Linked DNA regions of Homo sapiens: region 1 is linked to region 2. Evidence: fine-mapped expression QTL. Tissue or cell type: whole blood. Region 2 holds a variant in brackets; the other region holds the start of a gene. All regions are shown on one strand. Distances are from middle to middle.

What was found. PIP is the estimated chance that this variant, and not a neighbour inherited with it, causes the effect.
Region 1: it holds the start of TM9SF2, and the variant in region 2 is fine-mapped to the expression of TM9SF2 in whole blood (TOPMed, PIP above 0.99).

The regions. Positions count from the first base shown.
Region 1 is chr13:99,499,433-99,504,658 of GRCh38, reverse strand. It overlaps TM9SF2 (transmembrane 9 superfamily member 2), which reads right to left and starts at 3,187. Exons shown (of 17, transcript NM_004800.3): 1 at 2,882-3,187. The coding sequence starts at 3,052. LINC00449 (long intergenic non-protein coding RNA 449) reads left to right here and starts at 3,596. Exons shown (of 2, transcript NR_133664.1): 1 at 3,596-4,264; 2 at 4,719-4,936. RefSeq lists enhancers at 2,807-3,395, 3,302-3,481.
Region 2 is chr13:99,462,806-99,468,031 of GRCh38, reverse strand. No RefSeq gene overlaps it. Among named protein-coding and RNA genes, the nearest start is that of LNCARGI, 33 kb to the right of the region's middle. The variant G/A (reference allele first, on the strand shown) is at 2,493.

The DNA of each region.
Region 1 (5,226 bases), 37 kb before region 2:
GCCAGTAAATTCAACATAAGATAATTTTTAAAGAGAGAAAATTACTAAATCCTCAGCATTCTTCTGATTCTCTCTCAATTTACATCCTGAGCTAAATGCATGAGACAAACTTTACAGTACATAAAAACACTCTACTACCTAAATTATATATAAGTTGAAGATATATTTGTTTCATCTCTACACTATCACAACAATGACAAATATTGCACTTTTCCTCTAAGAAATGCAAAATACCTTTCAAGGGGAATATGTCATAATCAAATATGATTATCCCTATTTTACAGATGGAAAAACTGTTGGTAACAGTATCAATGACCTGCCCAATTTCTCCAACTTCAGATTCACTAACTTAACAGCATCTTTTGGAAAAAATTATTTCCATTTCACAACTCTCATTTCTAATTTTTAAAAGAAGTTCCTTCCACTTTTCTGAATAATGTGTACAAGACTGTCCTCCTTAACAAATACGAAATAGATGAGAATAAATTATTAACATCCTGATTGAAGTAATACAAATTTCAACTGTTTACTGTTATTTATAGCATCTTCTTTGAAAGGCAAAGAAAATAAATATTAAAGTGTATTTCAAATTCTCTACACCAGTTAGTCATATCGCAGGAAAAAAGCTGAAAGTACACCCTCCTGCTCTTCTAAGAGTTGTTTCCATTAACCAGATGTGAGTGTAGCTGGCAATAAAGATAAAAATCCAAACATTTCGGAAAAATGATCTGCTCTGCCTGTTTTATCCCTATACCTATGAAAATTAAACATCCAAAATGACTCCCAAGATTAACTAAAAAATAACTAGAATACAACCTAGCCACTTACCAAAGGACCTGTTGAGAAAACAATCATCTAACTGGAAGACCACCTATAAGTTTCACTTATTCATTTTCTAAGTCCATCTCAAATGTCACTTCTTCTTCTTTTTTTTTTTTTTTTTTTTTTTGAGACAAAGTCTCGCTCTGTTGCCCAGGCTGGAGTGCAATGGCGCGATCTCAGCTCACTGCAACCTCCACCTCCAGAGTTCAAGCGATTCTTCCTGCCTCAGCCTCCCGAGTAGCTGGGATTACAGATGCCCGCCACCACGCCCAGCTAATTTTTGTATTTTTAGTAGAGACGCGGTTTCACCATATTGGCCAGGCTGGTCTTAAACTCCTGACTTCAGGTGATCCACCCGCCTCGGCCTCCCAATGTGTTGGGATTACAGGCGTGAGCCACCACACCTGGCCCTGTCACTTCTTCTATAGAGCTTTCCCTAAAGACTCTAGTCCACTGATGTTTCCTCATTTTGTTTTAGCACACTTTGGACATCATCCTGTGTAACAGATCAGATTTCAATAATCTGTTCATAAGCTTATGTCCCTTACTTTGAGGTTCCCAGAGGGCAGGAAATATATTTTTCATCTTTGAGGCACTAGGAATAGAATATACAACTGCTGTTAAAGTAAGACCAAACACTAGGCCTTAAAGGTTGGTTACTAAAATATTTAATGGAAAAACCAGTGTACTTGCAAGTCTAGATCTTCCACTTGGAAGCACAACAACAGTCTTTCAGTCAGAATCCTCAAAAAGGAGTGAAAGCTTCTTGCACTGCAGAGTATGAACTTAAGTACTGAAACACTAACTGCAGACTTGAGTAAACCTTAAATATCCTTAGATATTTTTTCAGATACAAGGTTTTGCACAGATGTATAAACATGTCATTCAAGATAGCTGACAACCTAAAAAGAAACTGCAAAATGTTATGAAAAATTTAAAGCTTATCTAATGCCCTAAAATAACCTCAAAATTCACAGCTATAGTAAAGCTAACTGTAATAAACACCAGCTTAAAAAAATCAAACTTAATAAATAAGCCTATTTATAGATTGTAAACGTTTGTTGAACGATTATTTGAATTGTTGAAATCATTAAAGGTTTCAAAGAGATCCTCATCCCCCAAATGTTAAGTTTTAAATAAACTTAACGAAATAATTGTGTATGTATACTGTAAAGCCCTACACCATATAACCTAAAAGCAGGTTACTTTATTTACGCCTCTTTTACTAGCAATTAAACTGAAAACCTTGAGTGTGAATGTTGTAAGAGATCAAAGTTTTCAAGACTTGCCCTAGGAAAACACCAGTTTCTCCCACCATTTGCCCCTTTTAAGTGTTTAAAACCATCTCAGAGAAAATAGTGAGACCTCGTATCTTTTTTTGTGTATTAAAATCTTTTACACTTAAAACTCAGAAATCAAGTGCCTCAACCATTACAGCAACTCTTTATTAATGCACTTTGTGTGGCTCTGGGTGTTATACTCCACAAATAAGGAACCAACTTCTAATTGTGAAGCGAGATATCAAAGTCCTAGAAAGAACAAGCTCTCCTAACCAACTAGAAGGTTCCAGGAAAATGCAATTAAACAGGAAGCAATGAAGTTAAAAGCTAATGGAAACTGTTAACTAGGCTGAGTGTTGCTCACATGTAGGGAGTCGGTCACCCGCTTCCTCAGCGTACATGTTACAGGGCTGTGAGCGAACACTCACGCGTGGACCTGCATACATCCAACTCCAAAGCTCTGAGGCGTGAAGCCCAACTCCAAGGGCGCTCCACACGGTCCCTGTTCCAGGAAAACTGAATACAGCTGCTCGTGCCACTTGGCCCGCAAGACGGGAGGCGAGTCTGAGGCCCACTGCGTCCTCCAGAAACTACCCTTGCAAGGGCTGTTTCAGAGCCCCCCACCCACAGCCCAGCAGACCCCAAAAGCTTCTGGGGAAACTCAACCCCACCCGCTGCTACGCCCCCTTCCCTCGCTCCCACCCGAGGATCAGCTCCCCCGGATAGGGACGACTTCCCCTTCCAACAGTGCATCAGAGGGCTCGTCAGGCCTCACCCACCTTGCACTCGTCGCTCTTTTTTTCTTCGTCGCAGAAGTTGACGGGCGCCAGGCCGGGCAGGTAGAAAGCGCCGCTCCGGCGCGGGCCAGGAACCGCCCCCAGCAGGAGCAGCGACAGCAGCAACAGCCGCGGCCACCGAGGTGGAGACAACACCGGCAGCCTCGCGCTCATGATAGTTGTTTCGGGGAAAGGGCAATCAAACCTAGGGGGTCAAGAGGGAAGGAGGGGTGGGGAGTCTCGGAGACGACTACAAGGCCGCCAGAGATAAAGGAAGCCGGCCCCCAGAAGGCTAGTTCCGGTTGCGCTAGGAGACACCCCGGGTCCCGCAACAGAAACCGAAGCGGACCGCAACAGAGCATGCGCACCGCCGTCTGCACATGCTCAGTGAGAACGGTCGCAGGCACCAGGAGGAGTTTCCGGGAGGGAGCGGGGGCGAAATCCACTTTCCGGGTTTTCCGCGCGCCAGCTGAGGTGGTTGCTGGGAGAGGTGGTTGCTGGGAGAGCTGTTCCGGCGCTCACGTTCCAATTCCAAATTACAAATTCCGATCTAGAGCTCCCACGCTTGGGGGCTGTGGAGCGCTCGCCAGCCGCTCCCCGTTTGCTGCTGGGTCTTACGAAGTTCTCATATCCATCATACAGTTTCTTTGTCACACTGTCCGCGGCACGCCAGTCCCTATGACAGAAAGCACCTGCGGTCTGTCTGGAGGCGGAGTTGGTGGCGGAGAGAAAAAGTTCTGGAGACACCTGGTTGGGAGCAGGCTAAGGAAACAAATGGGGAGGAATTAGCCACAAATCCTCAAATAGACAGCTACTCAAAGGCATCTTCACGGACAATTTCCAAGCATTGGATGCAGTGGTGCATTCTTGCATTGGGCAGTGATTGTGTGCACACATCTCTTTAAGGGAGAGTGGAAATGGGGTGAGGAGGAAAATGGGAGTAGGATAGAGTGTAGCGTTGACATTTATTTTCTTTAAAGGAAGACCCGAGCATACCTGAGAGCTCAGTGAAGAAAGTAGTTCTGGCGAATCGGATTAATATGGTATGATCAGCCTTTAGCAAGATTCTATCACTTTTCCCACTGATGATGTGAGACGGTGTCCGCGTGTGTAAGTGCACACACGTGTGTGTGTGTGTGTGTTGCATCTTCTGAGTATTTTTCAAGGAGAAGCTTTTTAGTGATCTGAAAAAGTCAATTCAGTTAGCCACTAGAGTTCAATCAAAAACTTCGGAAGAGTGCATCATCTTAAAGTACATAAGAGAGAATCATGACCTCCAGCTCAGAATTCAAGAATAGGCAGGTTTGTGAAATAGTAAGCTCAGAAAGTTGAGGGCCAGTGAACTCCTATTTCAAGTTCTTGCGGGTGTTTGTACTTTTTTCCCAGGTAAGGTTTATAACTTTCATCAGATTTTCAAAGGGACCTAGGACCCTGCAAATTGATCCATATAGTGGGGTAGCCAAGTTAATCAAGAGAACTGGGAAGTAGAAAAGAACGTTCATCTTAAGGTTGTTGTGAAGATTAAATCAAAAATGGAGGGAAAGTGCTGAGCACATAGCTTGGCCCAAGGAATGGCACTTTTTTTTTTTTTTTTGATAACAAAAACTAATCTGGTAGGGCCTGAGCAGAAAATTGTGCCTAGGTGGCTTCCCTTTCATGTCCTCTCCCTCAAATAAATCAACATATTCGCTGAACTTTGGGATAGGGAAAAATTGTAAAATATTCTGTATTTGGAAGTCATGGAGATTTCCAATATAACAAAAGGAAGCAGACGTTTTCTCCAAATATTAAGAGGAGGAAACAAAAATTAACATTTTTGCTCACTATCTTCTTTTCCTAGCACCACTGAAACTTGACCTTCGGCCGGCGCGGTGGCTCACGCCTGTAATCCCAGCACTTTGGGAGGCCGAGATGGGCGGATCACGAGGTCAGAAGATCGAGACCATCCTGGCTAACACGGTGAAACCCCGTCTCTACTAAAAATACAAAAAAATTAGCCGAGCGTGGTGGCGGGCTCCTGTAGTCCCAGCTACTTGGGAGGCTGAGGCAGGAGAATGGCGTGAACCCGGGAGGCGGAGCTTGCGGTAAGCCGAGATCGCGCCACTGCACTCCAGCCTGGGCGACTGAGCACGACTCCGTCTCAAAAAAAAAAAAAAAAAAACAAAAAAAAAACTTGACCTTCATTATATCTCACTGCCCTCATCCCAAACATTTCCTCTCCCAGTTTTCCAGGAAACGGCATCGCTGCCCATCTCTTTTCAGGCCCCAACCCTGGAGAAGAACCTAAATTTCTCATTTCCTCACTACCTACCTCCAGTCCTTCAGCAGGTCCCGTTGGTTGGGCTGCT
Region 2 (5,226 bases):
CAAACCTTGTTCCAGGAAAGCCTTGCCTTTCGAATGAAAATATCCAGGATTGGGTGAACATAGCTTGAGTCGCCCTATTTGGGTAATGACTCAGATTAGATATCCAGCTCTCAGTAATGTTAGTGTTTGCTTGGGTTTATGAAATATTTTATTGATCTAGGCATTTTGCTTTTTTTTTTTATTCTCCACCTGTTTGTGGGTAGATTTTTATGACTGGTATCAAATTCCTTATTTTACACGTGGACCTATATTTCATGCTTGATATTTGATAAAGGAAATTGAGCTGTTCTTTCTATTGCTTTAAGAGCAGTAGATCCTGGGGGTGAATGCTGTTGTGTGACACATCAAGACCAGCAAAAGCACAAGAGAAATGAGCTTTGAAAAGAGAGGTAATTACCTAAAATTAGATAAAGCCAAAACTGTTCTGTTAGGTAAATCCTGCTGCTAAATTGCCTTTAGCAAGCTAAGCATGGGATAATATTATGTTCTACCAAAAAAAAAAAAAAAAATCTAAAACCTTAGCCACAGGAAAGTGTGCTGAATATCAAGTGTTTTCAAGCGTTCTCTTATTTTTCTTTATTACTTTCCTGACTTGAAAAAAGACATGGCAAAGTGTAGTGACAATTGATTTAGGGCATGGGAAAGGGTGACCCGATTTTTAAAAATGTTCTCATAAATCAACAAATTAGTCTCCTTGAGATCATGAAGTGATGTTTCTGAGAAATTAGTGGCCTCATTCTGGAACCTAGTGGACAGGCTGTGTTTTCAAAACTAACAGCTTGTTCTAGTTGCCTTGCTTTAGTTGAAGGCTTAGTACCTCTACCAAAAGCTTCAAAGTAACGCAGGCATTGAGCTTCCCCAAGAAAAGGGCAGTAAAACAAACAATGTAGAAGCAAAGAACCAGGTGTCTTGGCAACATTGTAATTATGGCTGCTTGTGACGTTCTACAGGGATTTCTTCTTCAGGACTATGAATTTGGCCCATCAGGAGAACTTTGGCTAGCTAATACCTGCTGGGGAAATGTATGGGATCAGATCTCTGATTTATGAGATCCCTTCCAAGTGGGATCTGATAAATTATTAAAATAATAATTTTGAAATCTGTAACAATTTGAGAAAATACTTATGTCATAATGTTCCATGAAAGAAGCAAGATTTAAAAAATAAACTTTTCCGTGATTACAACTGTGTAATAATTATGGATATGTACAAACAAAGTCTCTAAAACAATAGCTAAAAATGAAAAAGGCCAGGTGTGGTGGCTCACGCCTGTAATCCCAGCACTTTGGGAGGCTGAGGAGGGAAGATAGCTACAGCCTGTGTTCAAGACTAGCCTGTTCCCATCAGCAGTAGACTGGATAAAGAAAATGTGGTGCCTGTACACCATGGAATACTACACAGACATGAAAAAGAATGAGATCATGTCCTTTGCAGAAGCACAGACGGAGCTGGAGGCTATCATCCTATGCGAACTAACATAGGAGCAGAAAACCAAATGCCATATGTTCTCACTTATAAGGGGGAGCTAAAGAGTGAGTAGATACGGACACAAAGAAGGGAAAGACAGACACTCGGGCCTACTTGAGGGTGGAGGGTTGGGGGAGGGTGAGGATCAAAAAACTACCTATTGAGGGCCAGGCGCAGTGGCTCACGCCTGTAATCGCAGCACTTTGGGAGGCAGAGGCAGGCAGATCACCTGAGGTCAGGAGTTCAAGACCAGCTTGGCCAACATGATGAAACCCTGTCTCTACTAAAAATACAAAAATTAGCTGGGCATGGTGGCGCATGCCTGTAATCCCAGCTATTTGGGAGGTTGAGGTAGGAGAATCGCTTGAACCTGGGAGGTGGAGTTTTCAGTGAGCCGAGAATGCGCCACTGCACTCCAGCCTGGGCAACAGAGCAAGATTCCATCTCAAACAAACAAACAAACAAACAAACAAAAAACCAAAAAAAAAAACCAACAAACACACACAAACCCCAAAACCCTACCTATTGGGTACTAGGCTTATTTATTACTTGAGTGACAAAATAATCTGTACACCAAAACCCCATGACATGGAATTTACCTATATAACAAACTTGCACATGGACCCTTGAACCTAAAATAAAAGTTTTTTTAAAAAAAGACTAGCTTGAACAACATATAAAACAATTTAAAATTTTTTTTAAAAGAAAAACATTTAATTTCTGGGGAGATTTTAGAAAACGCTTAGTTGATTTTGCCTTAATTCTGTTGTAGTTGATGCAAAAAGCAAAAGAAAGGCAAGGTGACATTCAAAATATTTTGTATGCTGTATTCTACACTGTGGAGGCTGCTCTAATAAGCAGCTGTAGTAATTACAGAGGGCACCAGATGGTGGCATGTAAACACAGCTTAGAGAGCCAGGTGGGCACTGGGCTTTTCCCACTGGGGTTCCAGAGTGGCCTCTCCCCCTCCAAGGTCTGGGCCCAGTCTGTTTGGGGGAGTGTCAAATGCAGATGGGAGCTGTTGGA[G/A]GCCCAGAATGTTGCTGGAGAGGGGTAGACACCAGGGCAGCCCTTCAGAACGCCCTACCTCAGCCCAGAGCAATGGGTGTGTTGGAGGCACTTGATGTGTTCAGGCATCATCTCCAGGTTTTAACAAGTGGCACAGCTGTAACAACGCCAATGAGCTGATAGGAGCCCTGATTACCAACAGTCTTGAAAGAGAGGGCCTGAGAGAATGCTTGCAAAGTTCTTACTTAGTGTAATCCCAGCACATGGGAAAGACTCCATACACGCTGGCTGTTGTAATAGGATCACAGTCCTGCTTACACTTTTATTATTATCAATAGGCAAAAAGCACACACCCTAGAGATTTTTCGAGGTTCCTTGAGGAGAGGATGGATGTCAGGTGTGGCCATCAGCCCCAGCGCTGAGAAGGGCTTATACAGACAGAATCTTCAGGTGGTATGACGACTTAGCTTCCCTGGCCTTTCTCCCCACTTCTGCCCATCGGTCATTACCTACCTCAGGACCCTCTAGTCATTATCGTGGAGAGGGGGACAAAGGAGGAAAATGCAGGTAGTTGAACCTGAGAGATGGTGCCAAATTGTCTTTTAATAACAGTTTTTTCTTCGAAACAACACAGAAATGCATGTCTGCACACAACAGGGACAGGATCCAGGAATTAGGAAGCCCCAACAAGAGTGCCAGGGGCACCCCAGAAAACCAGACACAAGGCTATGGCTGACCTTCTAACCTTCTCACTTCGTAAAAACAGAAGAGAACAAGTTCCTTCCTCAACTTGATACGTTAGCGTTTCTTGTAAATACATTTCCTGTGTCTAGTTCATCTTACTTTATAAACACAGACATCTGCTTTCAGTTTTGTTAAGAATGTGCTAAGAAATTCAGTTGAAAAACGCAATAAAGGATCCACAGAGGTCTGTCCTCACAGAACGAATCAGTGTTCAAACTAGTTCTGGAGGGAGACATTCAACATAGAGATGCCACAGGGCTACAAGCCAGCATTCCTGCTCGCTGAAGAAAGGCAACACTCGACACCCATGACCATCGATCCCATCTATTGGGGTGGAGGGTGGGGAATGCCTTCCATTACAGACTCAGTGTGACCTGTCTTCCCCGTCCTCCCATGAGGAGTCAGAGCCTTGGGAAGATGCCTGCAGAGTCATCACCACTGCATCCTCATCATGACCTGTATCTGTAGATTTTTCTCCCTTCAAGTACTATAATTTCCCACTGAACTCCGCTCTTTCTATTGGCTGACATACAGTATGTGCTTACTATGTGCTAGACATTGTACTAAGCAGTTTACATGGATTATTTCACTCTATGCTATTAGGGAAATAGTCTTATTGTGTCCATTTTACAGATGGAAAAACTGAGGCTGTCGATGGATGGATGGATGGATGGATGGATAGATAGATAGATGAATGGTGGGTAAAGCTGAGATACAAACCCAGTCTTAACCATTAAAACTGCCTTTATGAATAATAATGTAAGACAAAATAAATTTGAACTTCTTTAATTCAAGTCTACTGATCGATAGTGATAAGTATAAAATAATAATCATATCAAACACTTATAACAATCTTATAAGATAGGAGCCATAATCATAACTGTTTTACAGAAATGCCTAAAGTATTACTGGCCCTTTCAATGAAACCACATGCAGAAGAAGGAGAAACATACACAGACACACAGGCACACAGAACAGAAGCAGTCACATGTGCATTTGGAGCTGGATGCAGAAGTATACTTACAGGCAGAAGCAGATTGCCTTAGGTTGAGCTGTTGTAACAAAATACCATAGACTGGAAGGTGTTAACCAGGTGGATAGATTATCCCTCTATCCATAGATGGCTTAAGGAACAGACATTCATTTCTCATAGTTCTGTAGCCTGGGAAGGTGCCAGCAGATCTGCTTCTTTTGAGAGCTCTTTCCTGGCTTGTAGACAGCCACCTTCCTGCTGCTGTGTGCTCACATGGCCCTTCCTTGGTTTATGTAAATGGGAAGAGAGAAAGCTCTGGTGCCCCCACTTATTATAAGGGCACTAATTTCACCATGTGGCTCCCATCCTTGTGGCCTAATCTAGGCCTAATTACCTCTGAAAAGTTCCACCTCCAAATGTCATCATATTGTGGGGTAGGGCATCAACATATACATTTTGTGGGGGATACAAACATTTAGCCCATAACATAGATCTTATGCGGAAATCACAGAGGGATAGCTACACACAGAAAGTGGATCCTAATCATCCATCCATCAATCCACCCTTCTATCCATTGATTCATATGGTCACTTACTTACCCACACATCTATCCATCCATCCATCCATCCATCCATCCATCCATCCATCCATCCATCCACCCATCCACCCATCCATCCACCCACCCATCCATCCACCCATCCATCCACCCATCCATCCACCCATCCATCCACCCATCCATCCACCCATCCATCCATCCATCCATCCATCCACCCATCCATCCATCCACCCATCCATCCACCCATCCATCCATCCATGCAATTAATGTTTGTTTGTTGTGCATCGCCCTGAAGCCAGCGAGACCACGAACCCACTGGGAGGAACGAACAACTCCAGACGCGCCGCCTTAAGAGCTGTAACACTCACCGCGAAGGTCTGCAGCTTCACTCCTGAAGCCAGCGAGACCACGAACCCACCAGAAGGAAGAAACTCCGAACACATCTGAACATCAGAAGGAACAAACTCTGGACACGCTGCCTT